Linked DNA regions of Homo sapiens: region 2 is linked to region 1. Evidence: fine-mapped expression QTL. Tissue or cell type: lung. Region 1 holds a variant in brackets; the other region holds the start of a gene. All regions are shown on one strand. Distances are between the middles of the regions.

Evidence for each region. PIP is the estimated chance that this variant, and not a neighbour inherited with it, causes the effect.
Region 2: AQP9 starts here. The variant in region 1 is fine-mapped to the expression of AQP9 in lung (TOPMed, PIP 0.97).

The regions. Positions count from the first base shown.
Region 1 is chr15:58,106,447-58,112,695 of GRCh38, forward strand. No RefSeq gene overlaps it. Among named protein-coding and RNA genes, the nearest start is that of AQP9, 29 kb to the right of the region's middle. RefSeq lists a silencer at 4,132-4,351 and an enhancer at 4,135-5,334. The variant G/C (reference allele first, on the strand shown) is at 3,536.
Region 2 is chr15:58,135,092-58,141,340 of GRCh38, forward strand. AQP9 (aquaporin 9) reads left to right here and starts at 3,290. Exons shown (of 6, transcript NM_020980.5): 1 at 3,290-3,585. The coding sequence starts at 3,475.

The sequences.
Region 1 (6,249 bases):
GGTTCATGCCTGTAATCTCAGCCCTTTGGGAGGTCAAGGCAGTAGGATCACATGAGCCCAGGGGTTCAAGACCAGCCTGAGCACCATACAGAGACTCCATCTCTACAAACATTTTTTTAAAAATTAACCAGGCATGGTGGCCCGCACCTGTATTTCCAGCTGCTTGGGAGGCTGAGGTTGCATGGGTGACAAAGCAAGGCCTTATCTCAAAGAGAAAAGGAAAATTCTCTAGACAACAACACTACAACCCTTCCTATCACACATTACCTACCTGAGAGAGATTTAAAATCCACTTAGTCTTCCAAATATAGTCCTTCTCTTAGATCCTAGAAATTATATTTCTCCAATGCCTCTTACATTTCCAGTTTTTCAATTCTGACCCTATATCACTGGCTCAAGTATGCATTACTCCTTACCTCCACAATTACATTATTTCCTCCATTGTCAAGTTGCTATCTCCCCCTTTCTAATAAATGGGTATCTCATTTTCTTATACAAATTTTGTATAGAATTTGACCTCAGTAGTTTTCTGTTATTAATTTTTACGTGGATTTGATTGGCCAACTTTCTTTTCATGAACATTTAGAAGAAGGAAGTTCAGTTAGCTCTTTAAACTTCACAAAGCTCCTTCTTGCTGTTTTCAGGTAGTGTTAAAAAATATTTAAAGGCTTGCATTCTGGGATATTTTGGTTCTGTTCCTCCCACTCATTTTTATCCAAACCTTCATCTCTATTTTGATTCCACTCCTAGCACTTTCTCCTGGAGTCAGAACTTAAATGGGAAGGGAGCCCTGATGGGTCAGTTTGGAGAGTTTATGAGGGGCTGGACTTCCCCTGTCCCCTAGGCCCTCACCATTTGCCCCTTGCACTCACCTATTATTAGAGATGATCTGAACTTTCCCAGTGTTAGCTGCTGGCTTCATATCCCTCTTCTCCCATGTTTTCTGTTGGATATCTGTTGACTGATTCAGGGTTTTTCTCTTTTCAAGTTTTGATGCCTTCTTGCTTCTTTCTGCTTCCTCCCTGACAGAAGAACATAAGACTCAAGCTTTGTAGCAGTTAGTGGCTTATTCCACCTGTTTATATTTTGGGGGTGGGGGGAGATGTTGTCACTCAGTTTTGTTATAACTGTTGATCATGAGTTTTTGGTTTTGCTGGCTAGGCACTCTGTGTTTGTTTGTTTGTTTGTTTGTTTGAGACAGAGTCTCACTCTGCTGCCCAAGCTGGAGTGCAGTGGTACAATCTCGACTCACTGCAACCTCTGCCTCCCAGTTCAAGGAATTCTCCTGCCTCAGCCTCCCAAATATCTGGGATTATAGGCATGCACCATCCCACCTAGCTAATTTTTGTATTTTTAGTAGAGACAAGGTTTCACCATGTTGGTCAGGCTGGTCTTGAACTCCTGACCTCAAGTGATCCACCCACCTTGGCCTCCCAAAGTGCTGGGATTACAGGCATGAGCCAACACGCCTGGCCCACTCTCTATTTTTATGTGGTGATTTAGGAAGACAAAAGCTATCCTGCCACTGCTACTGCCATTTATCCAGAATCCTCTGTGTTAAACATTCCAAATGTGTTAGATTTTTGTGTGAAGTTCCCAAGAAAGAGAACAGTTTAGTGAAGGAGACAGAGAAGCAGACCACAATCAGGGTGCACTCGGCTCTGTACACAGGTACTATGTGTGCAAGAAGAGCGTTGCCTAGTTTTGTGAGATAGTGGGGAAGAGAACACGAAAAACTTCCTGGAAGAGATAATATTAGAGCTGAGCTTTGAAGGACAATTGTAAGTTAGCTAGGTTGATTGAGTTGGGGAAGTCTCTTCTAAGCCAAGGAAATCACATGGGCAAGAGAGTGGAAGCTTGAGATAATAGGACATAGTTAGATACCATATGTTTAACTATAGATGTACAGGGACTGAGAGCATGGTTCTTAGGAGAAATGATGAGATATGAGCCTAGAAAGATGAGTGGAGCAATTCATGAAGGTTGAGGTTGTAAGCTGTGGAATGCATGTAGCATCAGTTATAAACAAGAGACCTTGTCTCACAGTGTGCCCTGCTCTGCCTTGTTGCTCAAAGAAATCATTCCAACAGTGATCCCCACCCCTTCCAGTCTAAATAGAACCCTGTGGTTCATACTAATCTTCAACTATCCAACTAATTTGTCTATTGGTTCATTTTTCAGATTTTTGCCCGAACTGTCTTCTGTAAAGTCTCTGTCCCTAGCCTCTTTCTGACTACTTGTTAAATTTTGGAAAGTTCTGTTGACTTCCCACTGTTCCATCCCAGCTCATCAGCCCTGACTCTAAGACAACTTGCCATCTGGCTTCTGGAATCATTACACCCCTCATTACTGTATTCCTTTGTCTATAGATCAACTATTATTAAGCATTTAAAATGTACCAAAAGATGAATAAGAAATTGTCTGTCTTAGTTTGGAATCTCCACTAACTTAGATATTGAGACAAGTGTTAGGGTGTAGTTAGTTTATTCAGGAGGTGCTCCCAGGAAGCACAGGAGGAGGAGTGGGGAAATCAAGAGAGGGAAGGGATAAAAGCTAGCAAAGGATGCATTAATGAGTGTGTTGTTGTGGACAACTGGGGCTCAGTTCCTCTGGTTATCCTCTAAGAAATCATGCCTCAGAATGGTCTTAACAAGGGCCAAGAAGCTGCAGTATTTTCCCACAGATTTCTATCTCTCATTGGTTGAGATTTGTCCTGGAAGCAATACATTCTTGGCACTTCTGAGTTGCTCTGCAGCTGTGCAGAACAAGTTCCCATGGCATTGGATAAAGCCCTCAACCAGCAAAGCAGGTGGACCCACACTTAAGCTAGGAAGGTGTAACTATCTCTGTAACTATCATCTGCATGCTCTGTAACTATCATCTGCAGTTGCAGAAAAGCTCAGAAGTCAGCATGGGGATGTAGGACAGGGCATAGACACTATTTTCTATGTAGTCCTTGCTTTCAAGAGGTTTTCTTCTAGTAGGCAGAGACAGCCATGTGAACAAATAGAGTGTTGTAGTATTGTGAGTGCTATGGTAGGAGAATATACAGTGTACGTGTGGGAGGAGGTACAATGGAGGAAGTGGTGTATTCTACTTGGAAAGGATTGGGAAAGGTTCCCAAGAAAAGTCACCCATAGACTCCACTCTGTCCTACTTGACCTAATCTCTCAACTGAGACACAAACTCACAACTGAGTTGAGGGGAGTGGGCAGGGAGGATGACAACAGAAGACTTCTATGATCCAGTCTGCACTTTGGTGAGTCAGTCTTCCAACAGTGTGGAGGACAGGCTGGAGCAGAACAAGTCCAGAGGATTCATTAGGAAACTTTGTACTAAATCATGCAAGACAGTCCGAGAGCCCGGATTATATCTGTGGCAGTGGGGCTGAAGAGAAGAGAAACATTCTAGAAGAATAATGGAGGATTGAGAGAACATGTTAATGGATTGCAAACGAGGGTTGCAGGAGAGAGAAGAGTTTAAAGATGTGTCTGGATGAAATGACTGGGTCATGGTGATGCCATTTAGGGAGATG[G/C]GGATACAGGAGGAAGAAAAGGCTTTACAGGAAGGAGGGTGACCTCCTATATGAATGAGTTGAGGTGCTCTTGGGACATTCATATAAGGACTGTGACCACAGCATGACAGAAATTAGAAAAGGTGAAGGACAATGTGGCCAAAGAGTTTGGAATTCAAAGGAATGAGAGTTGAGCAAACAGTGAGGACTCAGGTAAGTTGCTCTCTTTCTCTTGTCCCAGAGATGCAGGTAGGAAAGGAGATATAAAAGAATGAACCATTGAAAATAGAGTCACAAAAGAAATTCGGTTCTCAGAAGAGAGACAATAAGACAATTTGCAATTGGGGCCAAAGGGAGAAGCAAATGGAGAAGGTGAGGGTAGAAGGATCCTATTATTAATCACAGACTTTCCCCAGGATTCTAAAGAGAAACTCATGAGAAGTTGTTGAGGCATGTTTGCCAAGCCCATCCCCAATTGATGGGAAGCGGAAAAGACAGATGGAGTGTATTTCCAGCTCACTATTAATAAACAGCACTTTCCATCTGTACCATAGGCTAAATAATCTCACTTTATTTATTTATTTATTTATTTATTTATTTATTTACTTACTTACTTACTTATTGAGACGGGATCTCGCTTTATTGCTGAGCCTGCAGTGCAGTGGCACAATCACACTCACTTCAGCCTCAACTTCCCAGGCTCCAGCAATCCTCCCACCTCAGCCTCCCAAGTAGCTGGGACCATAGGTGCATACCACCATGCCTGGCTAATTTTTGTATTTTTGGCAGAGAACAGGGTTTCGCCATGTTGCCCAGGTTGGTCTGGAACTCCTGAGCTCAAGCAATCCACCTATCTTGGACTCCCAAAGTGCTGGGATTACACTTGTGAGCCACCACACGCAGTCCTAATCTCACTTTCTAAAGCCTTCTAAGTTATGCCATTTTCAGTCTTTTATGAGAGAAAATACCTGCAAAATATCTTTCAGGCTTTTAAATATCAAGAGTTGAAATAAAGTTAATATTTTTAGTTGAATACTTTAAAAAATTTTTGTCCCATTGAACGTTTTTTTCTTTGTGCAGGTCACATGGTGGACCATATTTCAGAACAGCTATTATCAGATGGTGGAAGAAGGGCCAGAATGAAGGACACAATGTGTTTTGAGGTAGATAATTGTTTTCTGAGAAAAGATGAAACAGACGAAAAGGAATTATCCATTCATAAGATCCTTTAGGTGTTCCAAGGAATGTATAAGAAGCTTTTTTCCTCAGAATATTGACTCATCCCCAGCAAGAGGATGATTCAAAATAATAAGTGATTATAGTACCGGTCAGTAACAACTCTAAGACTTCATAAAGGAAAACATTATGAATGATAAATTACGCAGAAGAAAGTCTTTGATAAAAGGGAGGAAATTACACTGGTGGAGAGGAGTGAGATAAGAGAGCATTCTTGGCAGGGCAACAGTGTGAACAGGTGTAGAGTTAAGAGTGACAATGCATTTTCAGGGGAATGACTTAGAATGTCCCAGCTGGGGGATGTTGGGGATGACATTGGAGAGATAAAGTGGGTCTCATTGGCTGATGGCCCTTAATGCTTGGTGCAGAGAGTGGATTGATCTGATAGGTAAGAGAAGACATTGTAAATGTAGCAGGAGAATGCCGGGATAAGAGTGACATTAGAGAAATAATTTTCTGGATTGTTAAAGAAACCAGTTAAGCCAGTGGCTCGCAACATATTTGGGGCACTGACTGCTGAGGTAGATTGAATAATGGCCTCCCAAAGACATTCACATTCTAATTCCTGGAACCCATTAGTGTTATGGTATGTGGCAAAGGGGACTTTGCAAATGTTAGGGATCTCAAGATGGGGAGACTATCCTGGATTACCTGAGTGGGGCCAATGTAATCACAAGGGTCTTTATCAGAGAGAGACAGGAGGTCAGAGTGAGTAGGCAATGTAACGACATAAGCGAGGGCTGGACTAGTGCAAGGAGGTGACCACAGGCCGACAAATGCTGGTGGTATCCGGAAGCTGGGAAAGGCAAAGAAACGGAAGCCTCCAGAAGGAGTGAAGCCCTCCCAAAGCTTTGATTTTAGACTTCTGTCCTCCAGAACTGTAGGAGAAAAAACTTATGTTGTTTTAAGCCGTTAAATTTTTAGTGATTGTTACGGTGGTACTAGGAAACTGATACAAGCCCCTTTAAGAGGCTGATGGAAAGTATTATTTGACACAAGAAATACGTGTATGTACACAAACACACAAGAATTTAAAAAATATTTTCAGGGGTTTTATAGTCCCACTAAAGCTCATCTGTGGACCTTATAGAGGGTGTTTAGTTCCCAGGTTAATAAACCCTGGAGTTGACAGGTTATTTTCATACTTAACACATGTAATAAAAAGGTTTAGGGCTGTATCAGTAAGACAGGAAAAGACAGTGTAAATCTAAGAGGTATTATGGTAGAGGGCTAAATTTGCAGTCTAAGGACAGGGCTACATTAAAGCTGACTCCAAGATTTCAAACCTGGGAGACCAAGAGAATAGGTTATGTCAACAAGAGATGGAGAAGGTAAGAAGACAAGAAAGTTTGCCGGGAAAAATGTGGGGTACAGCCTGTGATACAGAGGCTACCATTCGAGGTCTTCAGTTCATCTCAGGACCTAGAACCCCCAAGGAGAACACTTGTGTGAGGCAAACCAGAGGCTAGAGCTCAGGCTTGAAAAGAAACGTGAGAGAA
Region 2 (6,249 bases), 29 kb after region 1:
GATTGCGTGAGTGTAGGCAAAGATGGTTACCCAAGGCAAAAGTAGATAAACACAGAATAGAATGTTGGGGAGAAGAGAAGATAGGAAGGGGCAGAGCCAAGGGAACTATTAATAAAAGAACAGCATATGCCAGCCCTGGAGAATCAGTATGGCAGTGCATCCAGGAAAGCTCATCAGCTTTAGAACCATTGACAGCAGTCACCATACTCATTCTTTCCTCTGCATGTTGGCAAATGCAGAGTTAGCTCTCAGATGTTCCTATGGTGACAGCAGAAATTTTGGTTCAGTATCTTGCTTACAACTCTATTCTACTCTATGGTGTATTCATTCAGACATCTTAGTCACTTAGACTATTAATTCCTTAATAATAGAGATCTGGTTTTGTTTTTTCATTTTTAAATTCCCACTGCTTAATGCTGTGCCTGACACATGGTACATATTCAATGAAAACTTTTTCTGAGTGAATGAAATTTAAAAGCTTCCTCATGCTTCCAGTTAGAACTTTGGAGTCAGGGTATTTTGACAAAGGCTCCCTCCCAGATGGAATAAAGGAGGAATACTATTCATTGCTTACCTTCTTAAGATGCTTTTGAACATTTTGTTAGGTGGCTGGAACATTTTGTTCAGTGAATATTTTGTATGAGTAAGCTATGTTTGATGATGAGCTGTTCGTGGTGATGGAGGTGAGAAGTGTGACTGTCAATTGAAGGTAGTAAAACAGAAATAATAAAGATTCCATCCTCCTCTACCTAAGCATGAAATGTTCCATATCAAACTCTCAGTTCTCTTCAAACTCTCTCCCTAGGGAGCCTCTTTACTCCAGGCTCCAGTTATCACCACTATGAGCACACAGACATTCCTTCCTCATCTGGACCCATATCACTTCCTAACTTACATCGCTCAGAAGCCTCTGAGGCTCAGTTTTGCACAAGCAGAATTAATGATCTTCCACTGCACTTCTGGTCCTCTTCCAGGATTTCCTCTCCCAGGGCTCAGCAGCACCTTCCCCAGCAAGTTAGGAACTCAGGAACCAACTTTTCTCAGTCTCTTTTCCTCATCTCCCACATCTAATCCATGAAATTCTTCCAATTTTAAGATATAAAGAACTCTTGGATCCCTCCATTTCTCCACTGTCAAACTACCACCCAATTCTGGAATTCTGTAATACCCCCAAATGTATCTGCCTATGACCATTCCAAGCCCCCTCCAATCCCCTCTCCACCTCACAGCTCGGAGGATCTTTTCAAAACTCTAATCTGATCATGTCGTATTTCTGCTTAAACCACCTTAATGACTTACACTTTTAGCCCTAACTACCACTTACAAGGCCTAGTAAGGTCTGACCCTTGCCCACACCTCAGGGCTCATTTTGCATGCTGTACTCCTTCACTCTCTCTGGGGCCAACCACAGTAAATTTCTCTCATTCTTTGAGAGGCATCATGCTGTCCCCTACCCCTTACCCCCAAAGCCACCAAGGACTTTGTACATGCACTTTCTTCCCCACTTCATGTAGTTAATCCCATGCTTCTTTCTGATCTCAGTCCACACATGACTTCCTTGGAGAAGCCATCAGAGATCTCTCCAACAAAGTCAAATCCTTTTGCTATATTTGCTTATGGAAATATGGCCCCCATCTTTGCAGCATACATCTCAGTTGTGATTTTGTATTTATGTGTGTGGGATTATTTCACTTACATCTGTCTGCTTCACTAGACTCTAGGCTCTGTGAAGGACAAGAACCCTATGTGCTCTTGTTAAGTGCAGTGCTTGGCACATAATGAGTGTGCAGTAAATAGTTGTTAGATGAGTGAATGGGAAGACCAGAGAACGCTCTTGCATGTTATTAGCTGTAGTCACAGTAAGAAAGTCCTGTTTCTCTGGTCCATCCACTGGGACTTGGTAATGGTGTGGTCATAGGTAACTCTTCTAGACAATGGTATTTATGATAACTTCATCAGGAATTAAAGCCAAAGTGCTGAGGTTTTGTCCTGGTTCTGCAGTAGTGTGGCCTCAGGCAGGTTATAACTTTTTAAAGTCTAAATTCTAAATGTCACCTACAGATGAGAAGTCTCCTTCTGCCTTTGGCCTCTCACCAGCTGCTTTCTCCATGTCCTCTCCTCCCTCCCTTTTTGCAAAGCTAGGGGAGGGCCTGATGCAGAGCTGGCTTCCCTGTGGGAGGACTGGAAGGAACCACACAGCATGGATACTAATTCCATGAGTCCACATTGGTAATCAGAAACTAGGCCTGCCTTGCTATTTAGAAACTAATGCTATATTCTATTTCTTCAGATAAGCCAGTTTTGAAAAACAAGGCTTGAATATTTGGCAGGACAAGGAGCTACTCCCAAACACAGTTTCTTGCCAGCAAGGATGTCAATTTATCAAATTGAAAGGGTATAACCTAGGAGCCTCGGTTAGGTGTACTGGCTCCCTTTCTCGTTTGATTAGAATGACATACACGCTAATTGATCTCTTTCCGGCTCAGTCATCTCCATGCAGTAAAGAATTTCAAGCTGCTATTGTTTATTTCCTATGTATTATGTCTAAATATTTCATGGTGAATGAAGAAGAGTGACTATTTTCAAACTGGAATGCTTCTTCAGAAGAAACCCAAACTGGAATGTTTCTTCAGAAGAAACTTCAGAAGTCACCAAAAAGGTGACTCCTCCATCTTTCTGATTCTTGGATCCTAAAGTATCTTCAGCAAGTGAAGCCCAGTTTCATAACCGAAGAGGTGACTCCATCTGTCCTACAGACTTGCAGTGTGAAGCTTGCAATGGTTTCTCTGTATGTTAATTTCTCCATCTCTAGGATGGCCTATGTGGTTCTTACTAACCTCAGAGTGGTATCATGAAGCCACTGAAATGATACCAGAAGAAAACAAGAGTGATTAATCTTCTAGGATGATAAATCTATATTTTCTTCAAATTCTTCATTTTGCATAAAAACCTTTTTCAGAAAAGAATGTTAACATTGGATATATCTACACCTGATTTGACAGTTCCAAACTACACCCCAACCACCCACTTCTGAATGAGAAGAAAAAAAAATCAGAAGCCTGCAATTGTGTAACATGAAAATCTTTTCTGGACCAGGGCCCGTCACTGTGATTTGGCAACACAACTGGCACATCTCTTTTCTCATCTCTTGAAAAAAACCAACAGAGAAAAAAGTACCTTGAGAATAAAGGTAATGATTAATCTGTCAGGCACAAAAGGGATTGTTTTGGGGATTTCGGGTTCTAAGTCGCAGATTCAAACAAATAGCAGCGAACAGGGAATGACAGTTCCACCAGAAGACGATTAAGCCACAGCCTCTAATTGGAACGGCATTTGTACAGTCAGAGACTCTTACCAGACATCTCCAGGAATCTGTGAGCCATTGTCAAAACGTCCATTTTCATCTGGCTGTGAAAGTGAGGACCACAACAGGTAGGTATTGGTAGAAACAGGAGTCCTCAGAGAAGCCCCAAGATGCAGCCTGAGGGAGCAGAAAAGGGAAAAAGCTTCAAGCAGAGACTGGTCTTGAAGAGCAGCTTAGCGAAAGAAACCCTCTCTGAGTTCTTGGGCACGTTCATCTTGATTGTAAGTATTTCCTGATTTCCTACATTCAGACCCAATAATGCCTCCCTAGCTGCCAGGCTGGTAGTGGAGAGTTTTGTTTGGTTTGTTTTATTTAAGTTAATTGGGATCAGATTCATCTTTTCCAGGAAGAAACAAGTTACTAGAGGCTGTTTGACTATTTAGGGGTTGTGATATTAAGTTTTCAATTACCTATTGCATTTACCCACAAAAGTTGATGGGAATGGAAGAGAAGGAGTGAGTGAAGTGCCTTCTTTATTTCAGGTATTTACTTATACTCTAAAATGGCTTTGTGATTTAAAAGTCAGTCGTTAGTGTTTTCATTGATCAATTGATTTGTACCCTGCTTGCTTCCTCCAAGCATTGGGGTGACTCAGCCACCTGGAATAAGCATCAATAGTCAATAAATATAGTTGGCAAAAATATACATATGGATGGCAAGAAACATCTCAGTATGACAAGTACTTGACAAGTATTGTGCTGTCAGATCACTTGATTTTTAAGAAATTAAAAATTGCACTAGGTAGAAATAGTGTACCAGGCAATAGTCCAGCTTTAGTTTTGTGTCATTTTTGGTCTCTATTTAAAGCAAAGTAATCTCTAAATATCTTTGGAGATTTACAAGACAATTACAAGAACCTTCTAGATATAAACGAGGGACGACTTCTAAGAACCTCTTGAGGATTGCCCAGAGATTTACTCAGCTATTAACAAGAGACTGGAAAGTTTACTTAAGTGGTCTGGGCTTTCATTTTGCTGCACGTTCTAGCATTCTCTGTATCCTGAAGTTTTACCTGGAACCAGGCCATTTGTGAATAGAAATGTATTATCATGTGGCAACTATTGATTTCAACTGGTTTTTTTTATCCTGCTTAAGGATTTCCTACTCCAGGTATAAATAATTTCATTTTCCTTAAAGTTATAGAGAATAGCCCATAAACTCTGTGCATTAAAAGTTCTTTGCTTGGGGCAAATACATAATAATTTAGAAGAATAAGCTTGGAATGCATCAGCTAAGCCAAGAATGAGAAACAAATGTGAACTCAAAAAATTGAACTAGTGGAATGTGAAGAGAGAGTCATAAGTTTTCTGGTCTCTGAGAAACACATTAGACCAGATTCGTTACAGTATTTTCAGGGAGTTACGGACAATTTCTTGCACTCCTCATCTTCCCTTGGCATTCATTCCTGGCTGCTCTGACCACACTCACTGTCATAATGTAGCAAGACATTATGTAGTAAGACATTATGTAAGTAGTTATTTCTAACTAAAATAAAAGAAATAAAAGAGAGAAGATGAAAGTCAGTGATTCTTATGATTCCCGGTCACTGCTTACTGGAAAATCTTTCTTAGTGAGACTGAGACCCCTCTGTCATGTTACTTGACAATCTGGCCCCAAAGAAGCAGTTGTCAATACAGAGTGATTACAGCCTCACAGTGACGAGTGAGTCAGAAAAGTGAAGCAAATTCAGTTACAATTCTTAGTGCTCTGCAGAAAACAGAGGAGGAAATGAACTACACATCTTTTTTTTTTTTTTTTTGCAACCAAAAAGTTTAAAACCCTCTGTATTTCTTAAGAAGAACCTGTTTCATAATCCCGTGCTTTCTGTGTTGAAAGTGAAATTTGCTTTCAGCAGTTCACTGTTCAACTGGCCTTGTGTCTTCCCCACTATGCAAGGTAGGGGCTAAATAAAGAACATCTTGATATTGTCTGTTGAAAAATTAAAACTTGTATGTTCTGGATAAAGCCAGTCATTTCCTGAAATATTTAATTTCCATTTATACTATACATTTATTTTCTAAAGTGAACCCTAATAAAATCTGCAACCTTGATTATCATCTTCAGTTTTGTTGGAGCTTGTGGGGATGTATAAACAAAAAGTTCCTGCACAAACACAATTTTTTTAAACCAAGAAATCTACATGGTTTTGCTGAAAGTTTATCCAAAGTAATTTTCTGCTTTATTAGAGAATGTGCATTTTGCCTTGTATTTTCTAGTAAAAAGCTTTGTACATTGATAAGGCAAAGGGAAGGGGAACATCGAAAAGATGGCAGAGGATATAAAGGACTCAGTCTTTCAAATATGTGAGATTGTTTTTTTTCCGCCAACCTTGGGAGTCTGGTTCTATTTTTTTTCCCTCCTTTCAAAAACTGCTCTTATGGGGAGCATCTCAAACTAATCTAACACCATGGTATAAATTACGGGTCCCCAACACATGGGCCACGGACTGGTACAGGTGGTCCCTGGTGCTAAAAGGTTGGGAACAGTTGGTATAAAGGACTGATAAGGCCTACTGGTAGCATTAAGAGAAAAGAAGGTCCATGAAAAATTCTTTATAAACTACAACTAAAACCAACAACAATTAAGTCATAAGCCAAAAAGCTAGCTCTAATTTGGCCTTTTAGTCATTGGGATACGTAGGCCTTTCACCTTTACTAGTGTGGGGGGAAAGTTTGCAATGCAAAAGGCTGATCTCTTCCTTGGGCTGAACTTCAGAGAATCTCTAGTCATGTCTAGTCATTTCTCACAGGGACTATGCTCACTCCTACTACTCTATATATTCTCCTCTCTCTTCAAACTTTTCAGGATTCTTTGATACAGAGCTCATCTTATTGAAGATGCTGAAGTGAACAACCCAGCAAGCAGCTGTATTTCCTCCTGAGGTG